3 linked regions of the Homo sapiens genome follow. The main gene of each other region encodes a partner of the protein of the gene in region 2 in a complex. Each region holds a gene or a part of one and is shown on either strand. Other genes may lie near its edges. A codon is read from its position in the direction of its gene.

Region 1 (3,403 bases), on a different chromosome or scaffold from region 2:
CCCACATAGGGTTCCCTGAAGGGAAGCTTAGGACTTCAGGTGGGGTGTGGCTGGGAAGAGCAGGACTGGCGAGCGTGACCCTCCCCGTGGCTGCGTGTGCTCTGAGCTGCTCAGTACCACAGCGGCTGTCGCCTGTCCTCCCTCGGACAGTGTGGATAAAGCCCACTCAACCTGGGGCGGGGAGGAGGTCACCTTCTAGCTCCAGCACTCGCAAAAGATGCACCTGACCTGGGGTGGGCTCTCACAAAGCCTCAGACTCGAAGCCAAACTCGGCTCCCAGCAGCTCCGGGTTCAGGGAGGTGACCCTAGCAGGTCTCTGGGAACACCCTCTCCTAACCCCCCAACCCAGGGCAGGAGGGATCGCCGGACAGAAGCACGTGCGGAAAAACCCGCACCTTGACCCAGGTCAGCCTGGTATGAGGGTGACTTAGTGACAAACAGATGGGACGGTGCTGTTGCAGGGCACAAGGCTGGCCCCAGACACCAGGCACCACATGGGGCCGGGCCATGGGCAAGGTGCACTCTCAGAGAAACACAATGTTTTCGGAAAAGACAGACAGAGCAGCTCAGGGCTAGAGAATAAGTTTATACACTGCCTCGTTAGGTCCAGGGGCCCGCGCACGTGGCCAGGCGGGTGGTCCTGACGCTTCAATTCATTTACAAGTATTGGATTCCACGCCTGCTCCTGTGCCCGCAGGCTTCCCCAATAGGCCAGCAATCTCAATAATGCTTTATTAAAGGGCAGATTCATATGCGGCTCTTGGGGGAATTTTTACAAATATCAAAGGAACTAATCCAGCATCCTATATAGAACTCTGCACACTTTGGGGAGGTCCGTGAAGCAGGACAAAGTGCTCTTTACACAGGAATTGAGTCGGTTCAAGTATCTGCTCTGTGGGGAGGACACCCTAAGCATTCTACATACGTCACCCCTGCTCTCAGGATGCACCCAGTGGGCTCGCGGTCAGGGTGGCCTTGCCGGTGTCCACCCCCACACCACCCCCAGCTCCGGAAGCGGCTCCACACGGGGCTTGGACCTCTGCAGGGCAAGAGAGGGAGGGTCTTGAGCTGGCTGGGCCCTCTGGGCTCCCTGGGGGAAGACCCCACCCTGCTGCCTCATGGGGCCTGCAACAACCCCAGGGCGGGACCCTCCACCTGACAGTGGGGACAGGCAGAGGCTGGGGCGTTGTGCCTCTTCTAGAGGTGACCTGCTCACCTGCTCTCAGGTTGACCCTGCCTGCCCCCCACCACCCGGGCACACTCCTCCCACGCAGCCTGCTGCAGGGCCTCTGTACTTCCTCTTTGGCGAGTGCTCCAGAAATCCACCTGGCCCTCCCTTGCTGCCTCAGTGCAGCCTTCCCTGACCCCCATCTAACGTCACAACCACCTGAGACTCCCAGCATAGGCCCTTGTGGCTCTGCGGCCAGAACGATGCCTGGCATGGTCAGCACCCACGGCCCAGCCCGCCCGAGGATGTGGCAGGGCAGGAGCCACTTCCAGCTGCAAGCCCTCCTGGCTGCTCACAGTGGAGCTAGTCTTAGGCAGCCCCATCCCTTCTCTGTTGAGGTTTACCTCCAGCGCCCACCTCACCAGTGCGTTCTGCTATCTACAGCCCTTCTCACCCGCAGCATCCGGGACATCCACGATCATACAGTCGCCCTCCTCCTCTTCCTCCTCCTCCGTGTCTGCCTGGAAGCCGTCCATGTCTTCAGCACCAATCTGGACAGACAGGGTACACGGCCATCAGCACTGCAGGCAGCAGCCACCCTGGTGCCAGTGCGGTAGCGGGGGGAACTCCACAGGTGTGACACCTTCCTCCCACCCCCAACACGGAAGGAAACCAACATCCAGAACCCAATTTGGTAACAAACTGTCCAAATGTGAGAGGTTTATTCAAGAGGCCACAACCAGAGAACCTTGGGGGTTCCCTCAAATGAACTGGATTCAGATCTCCAAAAACAGCCATCATTGCCAACTGCAGAATAATTTCCAGTCAGTGACAGGCCGCATACCTGATAGTGGCCCCATCAGATTACAACTGTATTTATTTATTTTTATTTTTTTTTGAGACGGAGTCTCGCTCTGTTGCCCAGGCTGGAGTGCAGTGGCGCGATCTCGACTCACTGCAAGCTCCGCCTCCCGGATTCACGCCATTCTCCTGCCTCAGCCTCCTGAGTAGCTGGGACTACAGGCGCCTGACACCACGCCCAGTTTGTATTTTTAGTAGAGACGGGGTTTCATCGTGTTATCCGGATGGTCTTGATCTCCTGACCTCGTGATCCGCCCGCCTCAGCCTCCCAAAGTGCTGGGATTACAGGTGTGAGCCACCATGCCTGGCCTTTATTTTTTATTTTTGAGACGGGAGTTTCACTCTGTCACTGAGGCTGGAGTGCAGTGGCACAATCTCAGCTCACTGCAACCTCCGCCACCCGGGTTCAAGCGATTCTCGTTCTTCAGCCTCCTGAGTAGCTGGGATTACAGGTGTATGCCATCACGCCCAGCTAATTTTTGTATTTTTAGTAGAGACGGGGTTTCACCATGTTGGTCAAGCTGGTCTCAAACTCCTGACCTTATGATCTACCCACCTCAGCCTCCCAAAGTCCTGGGATTACAGACAACTGTATTTTTATTTAATATATATAAATCTTGAGACAGAGTCTTGCCATATATCCAGGCTGGAGTGCAGTGGTGCGATCTTGGCTCACTGCAACTTCTGACTCCCAGGTTCAAGTGATTCTCCTGCCTCGGCCTCCTGAGTAGCTGGGATTACAGCCACCTGCCACCACACCCGGCTAATTTTTGTATTTTTAGTAGAGATGGGGTTTCACCATGTTGCCAGGCTGGTCTCGAACTCTTGACCTGAAGTGATCCGCCTGCCTTGGCCTCCCAAAGTGCTGGGATTACAGGCGTGAGCCACTGCCCCAGCCGCAACGATATTTTTGCTGTGCCTTTTTTTTTTTTTTTAACAGGTGCCCGCCACTACGCCCAGCTAATCTTTTGTATTTTTAGTACAGACGGGGGTTTCGCCATGTTGGCCAGGCTGGTCTCGAACTCCTGACCTCAGGATTCGCCCACGTCAGCCTCCCAAAGTGCTGGGATTACAGGCATGAGCCACCGCACCTGGCCTCTGCTGTGCCTTTTCTATGTTAAAGACACATATACCACTGGGTTACAAGTGCCTGCAGGATGGAGCAGTCAGTCACCTGCTGCACAGGTCCACAGCTCAGGAGCCCTGGGCTATGTACCACACGGCCCAGGCGTGTGGCAGGCTGTCCATCTAGGATGTGTAAGAGCAACCTAGCCCCACCCAACCATGAAATTGCCTGAGGACACCTCTCAGAACACGTCCCTGATGTGAAGTGATGACTGTGACTTGTGAATTATTATTATTATTTTTTTAGAC
Region 2 (2,759 bases):
CGCCCGCCTTGGCATCCTAAAGTGCTGTGATTACAGGCCTGAGCCACCTCGCCTGGCCAAGCTAAGGAGTTTTGAGGCCAGCCTGGGTAACACAGTGAGACCTCGTCCCTAAAAATAAATACAAATTTTTAAAAATTATTTGAATAAAGTTGGGCCTTGAAAACAAACGAGGGCATCTTCGTGCTAAGGAGTGCAGCGCCTCAGGTTCATTCCCGCCAAACCAGGCAGTGTTAGGAAAATCAAGACCGAGGCCAGAAAAGCCGCTGCAGTCATGCCCAAGACAGCTGTCCTGGCAGCCGAGAGGCCCAAGAAAGCTTGGGGCGTCCTTATTCCGAAAAAGAGTACTAAGCGGACCCCAAAAGCTTTTGCTGGTGGAGGCTGCTGGAGAAGGTTGGTTGGTCAAAGGTGGCCAAGAAAGTTCCCAAGCCGGAGGCATCCAAGCCTAAGAAAGCGGCCCCCAAAACAAGGAGATATAAGAGTACCTTAAAGGCTGTTTTAAGAACTCCCCAATTATAATAAAGCTTTTTGCACCAATTCCGTGAGGGGAGGGGGAACGGATAGAGGCAAGAATGCTTACTTACCTTGAGTGAACAGAGGTTCCAGTTTACGGACAGCAACAGTAAACAGCAACTTTTATAGAAAAGGTGGTTGGCTCTGAAAAGAGCCTTTGGGTTTTGGTTAGCACACATTCACAAGACAATTTACGCCCTCTCCCCACGAATGCGGCGAGCAAGCTGGATGTCCTTGGGCATGATAGTCACTCGCTTGGCGTGAATGGCGCATAGGTTGGTGTCCTCAAACAGCCCCACCAGGTAGGCCTCGCAGGCCTCCTGCAGCGCCATCACCGCCGAGCTCTGAAAACGCAGATCAGTCTTGAAGTCCTGCGCGATCTCACGGACTAGACGCTGGAATGGCAGTTTGCGAATCAGCAGCTCGGTCGACTTCTGGTAGCGGCGGATCTCGCGCAGAGCCACCGTGCCGGGCCGGTAACGGTGGGGCTTCTTCACGCCGCCGGTGGCTGGAGCGCTCTTTCGAGCAGCCTTGGTGGCCAGCTGCTTGCGTGGCGCTTTCCCACCCGTGGACTTGCGAGCAGTCTGCTTGGTACGAGCCATTGCGAACTTCTAAACCCTGCTAAATGACGAAAAAACGAAAGTCTAGCCTTTCGTACCCGTATATATAAAGACACCCCTGTTCTGATTGGACAAGGCAGCCTTTCCCCTGCAGCTCGATTGGTGGAGACGCCCACTCCCTGACAGAACATCTCCTGCATGTAGACCAAATATTAAAACTTTCCTCCGTCCATCTTTAACTGCTGGTGTTTTCAACCCTTTCCCCTCTGTGCCATGTTTCTAGCTTTTATTTAAAACGTACTTTGGTTTTCCTTGGCAAAATTGTGTCTAGCTACTAGGATGACGTGTCTTAATTTTTTTTTAAATGTTGGCGCTGAAACTGGCTTTGATCAACGTTTTAAAAAGACGCGCGCTAGTTGTGATTGGCCAAGTGATTTCTTTTTACCCTCTTAAGTTTAGAAAGGTTAATTTCATATCTTGATTTGTCTATTTAAACTTGGAGATATTTTCAATAATTTGTTCCAAATGCACCATGACTATTAACTCATAAGTAACAATATGAAACCTGATGTTAAGCTACATGAACACATTTAATTTCACCACAATATGTCATCCTCATATGAAAGCACTCTTATCTTTTACAAGTTCAACTGGTATTTGTGTAATCTGCTGTAAAAAAAAAAAAAAAAAAAAGCCAAATTTATAAATGGCACAAAAAGACCAGTGTGCCCTTTTAGTCATGCTGAACACTGTGCTAAGAAGCTCCACCTAAGGGCCGTCTGGCTCCAGGGGATGTAGGTTTGTATTCCTATTGATAATTAATTAGGGTTAGCTCAGTAGAGTTGAAAGTGGCTTGCAAAAACAAACCCAAAAAATACTTACAAATTACAGGTTATTTCGTATCATTAAGATGCATACAAAAGACAATAAAACATTTGTTCTGGTTCTGTTGCTTTAAGTCACTAACTATATTTTTATGTAAATGTAAACACTGACAAACATTAACTTCTCTCCTGTATGTCTCAGGCCTTTTAACAGCTTTGCAATCCTAACGAGCCGCTGCATTGATCGATTTAAATTACATGTGACATAAAGTCTCTTTGCATTTTAATTAGTTTGCTTTTTTGGGTTTTTGTTTGTTTTGAGACAGTCTCGCTCTGTCGCCGAAACTGGAGTGCAGTGGCGCGATCTCGACTCACTGCAACCTCCGCCTCCGGGGTTCAACATTTTCTCCTGCCTCAACCTCTTAAATAGCTGAAATTACAGGCGCGCGCCACCACGCCCGACAAATTTTTTTATTTTTAGTAAAGACGGGGCTTCACACCATGTTGGTCAGGCTGTCCTGGAACTCCTGACCCTGTGATCCGCCCACCTTGGCCTTCCAAAGTCCTGGGATTACAGGCGTAAGGAACCGCGCCCCGCCAATTTGCTTATGTATTTTTATGGCATCTTTAAAATGGACGGTTAGTTTCACGATTCAGTGTTAAGAACACCCACTTATAAATGGAAAAATTATTAAAGAAAACTGCAAAATAGCTATTTACACAGAAAATGTGAGCCCTTTTAAGGAATACATGGGTGGCTCTGAAAAGAGCCTTTGTTAAGACTGCTTCCTTAAAAAGCCAATATAAGAGTTCTCGTTTTACTTGCCCTTGGCCTTGTGGTGACTCTCAGTCTTCTTGGGGAGCA
Region 3 (3,745 bases), on a different chromosome or scaffold from region 2:
GGTAGGAAGGCCTATTGCAGGCCATCCTGGCCAGTCCAGAGGTGTGGGAGCTGGGGGTCTCCTGCTCTTTCCTCTCCCTCTATGGCCAGCTACTTCTCCCCCCGCCCCCTTCCCCAGTGCCCAGTGCTTTGGGCACTGCCCTGAGTCTGTATCCACGGGGTCACTTGTTGGGGGTGGGTGGCTGACTCTGAGGGTAGATTTTGGCTCAGTAGGAGGAAGGACCTTAATTGAGCCGCCTGCGGTGGAGCAAACGGCCCCTTGGCAGCTGCAGGTGGGCGGTGATGGTGAGGGGCTGAGGGGCTAAGGAGCCTTGTCATGGATGCTGCTAGGAGACTGAGCCAGGTTTCCTGTCCGGAGATTCTGGAATTCCGAGCAGGGGTGGCCCACATTTCCCAGCACGATGCGGATTTTGCTGAGGGAGGATGGGGAGAGAAAGAGGGTGAGGGAGGAAGGGCGGGCAGGGATGTGGCCCCTGCCCAGCGCGGATGCCCCAAGGATGCAGCGCTGGCGAGGCAGGGAAGTCCTCCTCTAGAACGCGTGCAAGTGACCCCTCAGAGCGCACCTCCGCTTCTCCTCCCCACCGTGGGGGCTCAGTTCCCTGGACACGGGGGCCAGGGTTCCCATACTCCTCGCCCCTTAGGTCACGGGCCTGGGGGGCTCAAATGCCAGGGAGCTCTCTCTTGACAGAGCTGACCAGCCCGGCCCCTTAGGTCACGGGCCTGGGGGGCTCAAATGCCAGGGAACAGAGCTGACCAGCCCGTGCCAGCGCACTCCCGGCCCGGGCTTCTGTCCTCTTCCTCTGGGGCTGAGCATCAGGGAAGTCCGCGGGATCCTGCGAGGGAGGCGGCAGTCCCCAGCCGAAAATGAGGGGAAAGAGGAAGTGGTGTCCCAACCAGAAACTCAGTGGGGAACGGAGGGAGGCAGCGCGGCCGAGGAGGAGGAACACCCCCACCGTGGTGGGGGTCAGAAGAAAGTTAGGGCCAAGTATTTGCTTGTCGGCCTTCTAGACTAGGAAGGCTCTCCTGCGGGCTCCACTCCCGCACCCCGCGTCTCTCCTTCTGCCTTGCCCGGGTTCCCCCAACTTATCTTATCCTCGGGGTCCCGCCCACCTTCTCCCCGGGGTCCCACCCCACTTTCAGTCTCAAGGCTCCCCCAGCTCACCTTCGCGCCCGCGGACCCCTGGGTCTACCTTCAGCCTTGGGGGCCCTTCTCGGCCTATCTTCCACCTTCGAGATCCCCCCACCCGCCTTCTCCCCCGGCAGGGTCCCCCCGGCCGTCTTCTCCCCCGGCAGGGTCCCCCAACCCACCTTCTCCCCCGCAGGGTTCCCCAGCCCGCCTTCCCGGCGGCGGGAGCGGCGGCCCAGGCCGGCGGGCGGAGGCGGCGCCACCCGGGGCGCTGACGTAGAGGCCGCTCGGCGGCCGGGGGTCCCTTCGGTGGGGCCGCGGCTCCCCGCCCGCCGCCCCCGCGCGTCCATTCCCTTTTGTGTCCCGCGCGCGGCCCGTCCCCCGCGCACACTAGCGCCCTGAGCCCCGCGGGCCGGCGGGCGGCTCCCGGCGCGGCCCCTCCAGCCAGCGCGCCCGGCATTGTGTGGACGCGCCTGGCCGGGAGCGCGCGCGGGGGCTGTCGTGCGCCCCCGTCCCCGTCCCCTCCCGGCCGCGGCGCCGCCTGCGCCCCGCCGCCCCCGCCGCCCCCGCGCGGCCCGGCCCCCGGCCCGGCCCGGACCGACCCGGGCAGCGCAGCGGCGGGGCCGAGCGGCGGCGCGGCGCGGCAACATGGCGACGGTGCCCGTGTACTGCGTCTGCCGGCTCCCCTACGACGTTACCCGCTTCATGATCGAGTGCGACGCCTGCAAGGACTGGTTCCACGGCAGGTGAGCGCGCGGCGGCTGCTCGGCTCGGCCCGGCCCGGCCCGGCCACCTTGCCCGACCGAGCCCCGCGCCCCCGGCTGCGCGCCCGCAGGCCCGGCTCGGGGACGGGCCGCCGCCGCCGCCGCCGCATTCCGGGCGCCCCGGTCGGGGCTGGGCCGTGCCGGGCCGCGCGCCCTTTTGTGCCCAGGGCGGGGGCGCCAAGCACGGGGCCCGCGCTGGGCGCCCCTGGCCGCCGCGCACAAAGCGAGGCCCGCGGGCCGGGAGGTGGGCTCGGGGCTCGGGGCGCGGGGAAGTTGGGGCTCCAGGCCCGGGCCGGGCCGCCTGTCAGCTGGGTCGCGGCGGCCGCAGAGGCCGGGCATCCGGAGGGAGGCCGAGGCCCGGAGCCCCCGCCGCCTCCCCCCTGCGAAGTTGCAGGAACTTTCCCCGCGCGGGCTCGGGGTTGGCCGGGCCGGGAGAAGCGGGCGCGCAGCCCGGCGCGGGTCCCGGGAGAGGCGCGAGTGGCGGGCTCCGACTCCGGCAGGGCTGGGGAGTCCGTGGGGGCTCCGGCGAGGTGGCAGCCGGCGCGCCCACCCTCCGCCGTGGCCGGCGAGCTCCCTTGGACCTTGTCCCCGAGGGCAGGACCCCTCCCGGACCCCCGCGGAGCAGCTAGACCCGGCAGGCCTGCAGGTCCGCGGGCAGGAGTGCGGTGACAGAATAGTGTCTGTGAGTTGGGTAAGGGGGGTTTGTTGTGGCTTTGCCACCTCCTCCCTGGCCTTCAGTTTTCCCCGTTTCTCTCCTCTCCGTTCCCGGCAGGAACGCCGGTTTTGACATGATCTTATGCTCCCTAAGGAAGATGGGGAGGGGGGAAGGAGGTAACGCTTGGAGACACTGAAAACCCCCGCCCTCTTGGCCCTTGCCGATGGCCATGACCTGGCCCCATGCCTAGGGCAGGTCCCTTCCCACCAAGAAGTAAATGGAGGAGGAGGAAGAGGAGGTGACAGTGTTGCCCAAACTGCTCCAACAGGTTCTCTTGCATCTGACTTTGCCTGTGGGATGTGTTTGGACCCGGGGCTGGCCAGGGCTGTATGCCCTCTGGGGCTCCAGTCCCAAACCACCGGCAGCAAGCAGCCGGGGGAAAGAGAGGGGTGTGTGGTGGTGGGTGGTCCGGGATTCTCCTTCCAGAGAGGAGATCCTCCTGCAGGTTCTAAGACTGGGTCTTCAAGACTGGTCAGTGGTGCTTAAGAGTGGGCTGTGGCCCCAAGTCCAGTCCTGCCAGTTTACATGTGGGGACCTGGGTGGCTGGGATGTGACAGGGCCTGCTATGTCTGTCAGCCCCAGTCCTGAGTCCTACCTCCCTGCTGTTAGAAGGGCCTGGGACTCTGTGGGGTGGGGATGCCCACGGAAATCTGGGCTGCCTTCCTGGGTATGCCCAGGGCTGTGGAAGCCCCTTAGAGCAAGGGAGACTGAGTGTGAACACCGGGCTCTGCCCAGAACAGGGCTGACATGCACACCCTCAACTGGCAGCCGTTGAGAAGTTCATGGCCGGGCCAAAGTGAGTGAGAGCCTCTAAGGCTCCTCATATCCAGGGATGCTGAGCTGCTGGCCCTGAAAAGCCCTGAAAGTGGTGGGGCCTCTGCCTTCTCCCCCATCTCCACCGGAGCCCTGACCTGGCGAGCGCAGTCACTCTGCTACAGAACCTTCTGGGCACCTGTGTCAGCTCCTGGCTGCTGCCCACACTCGGGGCCCAGAGTAGGGAGAGTGAGAGAACGCGAGAAGACCTTTGTCTCGCTGCTTAGGGGACCCTCTGGGAAGGGAAGGCTAGTTCTGAACTAGACTTCGAGGCCAAGGGAAAAACTCCAGGAATGAGGGGCAGGCAGGCGACAGGGGCTGAGAGCTG

What was found.
Region 1: the proteins of H3C4 (region 2) and CHAF1A are in contact, whole or in part, in a cryo-EM structure (PDB 7Y5U), measured with the Homo sapiens proteins. Residues at the interface, in NP_001363866.1 of Homo sapiens: Arg43 (codon at 986), Gln56 (codon at 947), Lys57 (codon at 944), Thr59 (codon at 938), Arg64 (codon at 923), Leu66 (codon at 917), Gln69 (codon at 908), Arg70 (codon at 905), Arg73 (codon at 896), Leu83 (codon at 866), Arg84 (codon at 863), Phe85 (codon at 860), Gln86 (codon at 857), Ser87 (codon at 854), Lys116 (codon at 767), Arg117 (codon at 764), Val118 (codon at 761), Thr119 (codon at 758), Met121 (codon at 752); in NP_005474.2 of Homo sapiens: Val548, Glu602, Glu603, Glu606, Glu608, Asp622, Asp623, Gly625, Glu626, Asp627, Glu628, Asp631, Asp632, Gly633, Phe634, Phe635, Val636, His638, Gly639, Tyr640, Ser642, Glu643, Glu670, Lys674, Arg677, Phe678, Arg679.
Region 3: the proteins of H3C4 (region 2) and PHF2 are in contact, whole or in part, in a crystal structure (PDB 3KQI), measured with the Homo sapiens proteins. Residues at the interface, in NP_001363866.1 of Homo sapiens: Ala2 (codon at 1,109), Arg3 (codon at 1,106), Thr4 (codon at 1,103), Lys5 (codon at 1,100), Gln6 (codon at 1,097), Thr7 (codon at 1,094); in NP_005383.3 of Homo sapiens: Tyr7 (codon at 1,792), Tyr14 (codon at 1,813), Val16 (codon at 1,819), Thr17 (codon at 1,822), Arg18 (codon at 1,825), Phe19 (codon at 1,828), Met20 (codon at 1,831), Ile21 (codon at 1,834), Glu22 (codon at 1,837), Trp29 (codon at 1,858), Glu39, Ala42, Ile45, Asp46, Tyr48, Lys63.

The regions. Positions count from the first base shown.
Region 1 is NC_000019.10:4,440,561-4,443,963, reverse strand, and holds the end of CHAF1A (chromatin assembly factor 1 subunit A), read right to left. Parts: intron 1,720-3,403; coding exon 1,623-1,719; intron 1,040-1,622; coding exon 939-1,039; 3' UTR 567-938; downstream 1-566. UniProt on the Homo sapiens protein: Acts as a component of the histone chaperone complex chromatin assembly factor 1 (CAF-1), which assembles histone octamers onto DNA during replication and repair.
Region 2 is NC_000006.12:26,196,139-26,198,897, forward strand, and holds H3C4 (histone H3.1), read right to left. Parts: upstream 1,149-2,759; 5' UTR 1,113-1,148; coding exon 702-1,112; 3' UTR 646-701; downstream 1-645. Other genes in the region: H2AC7 (histone H2A type 1-D), read right to left, coding at 2,713-2,759. UniProt on the Homo sapiens protein: Core component of nucleosome. Nucleosomes wrap and compact DNA into chromatin, limiting DNA accessibility to the cellular machineries which require DNA as a template.
Region 3 is NC_000009.12:93,575,001-93,578,745, forward strand, and holds the start of PHF2 (lysine-specific demethylase PHF2), read left to right. Parts: upstream 1-1,583; 5' UTR 1,584-1,773; coding exon 1,774-1,871; intron 1,872-3,745. UniProt on the Homo sapiens protein: Lysine demethylase that demethylates both histones and non-histone proteins. Enzymatically inactive by itself, and becomes active following phosphorylation by PKA: forms a complex with ARID5B and mediates demethylation of methylated ARID5B.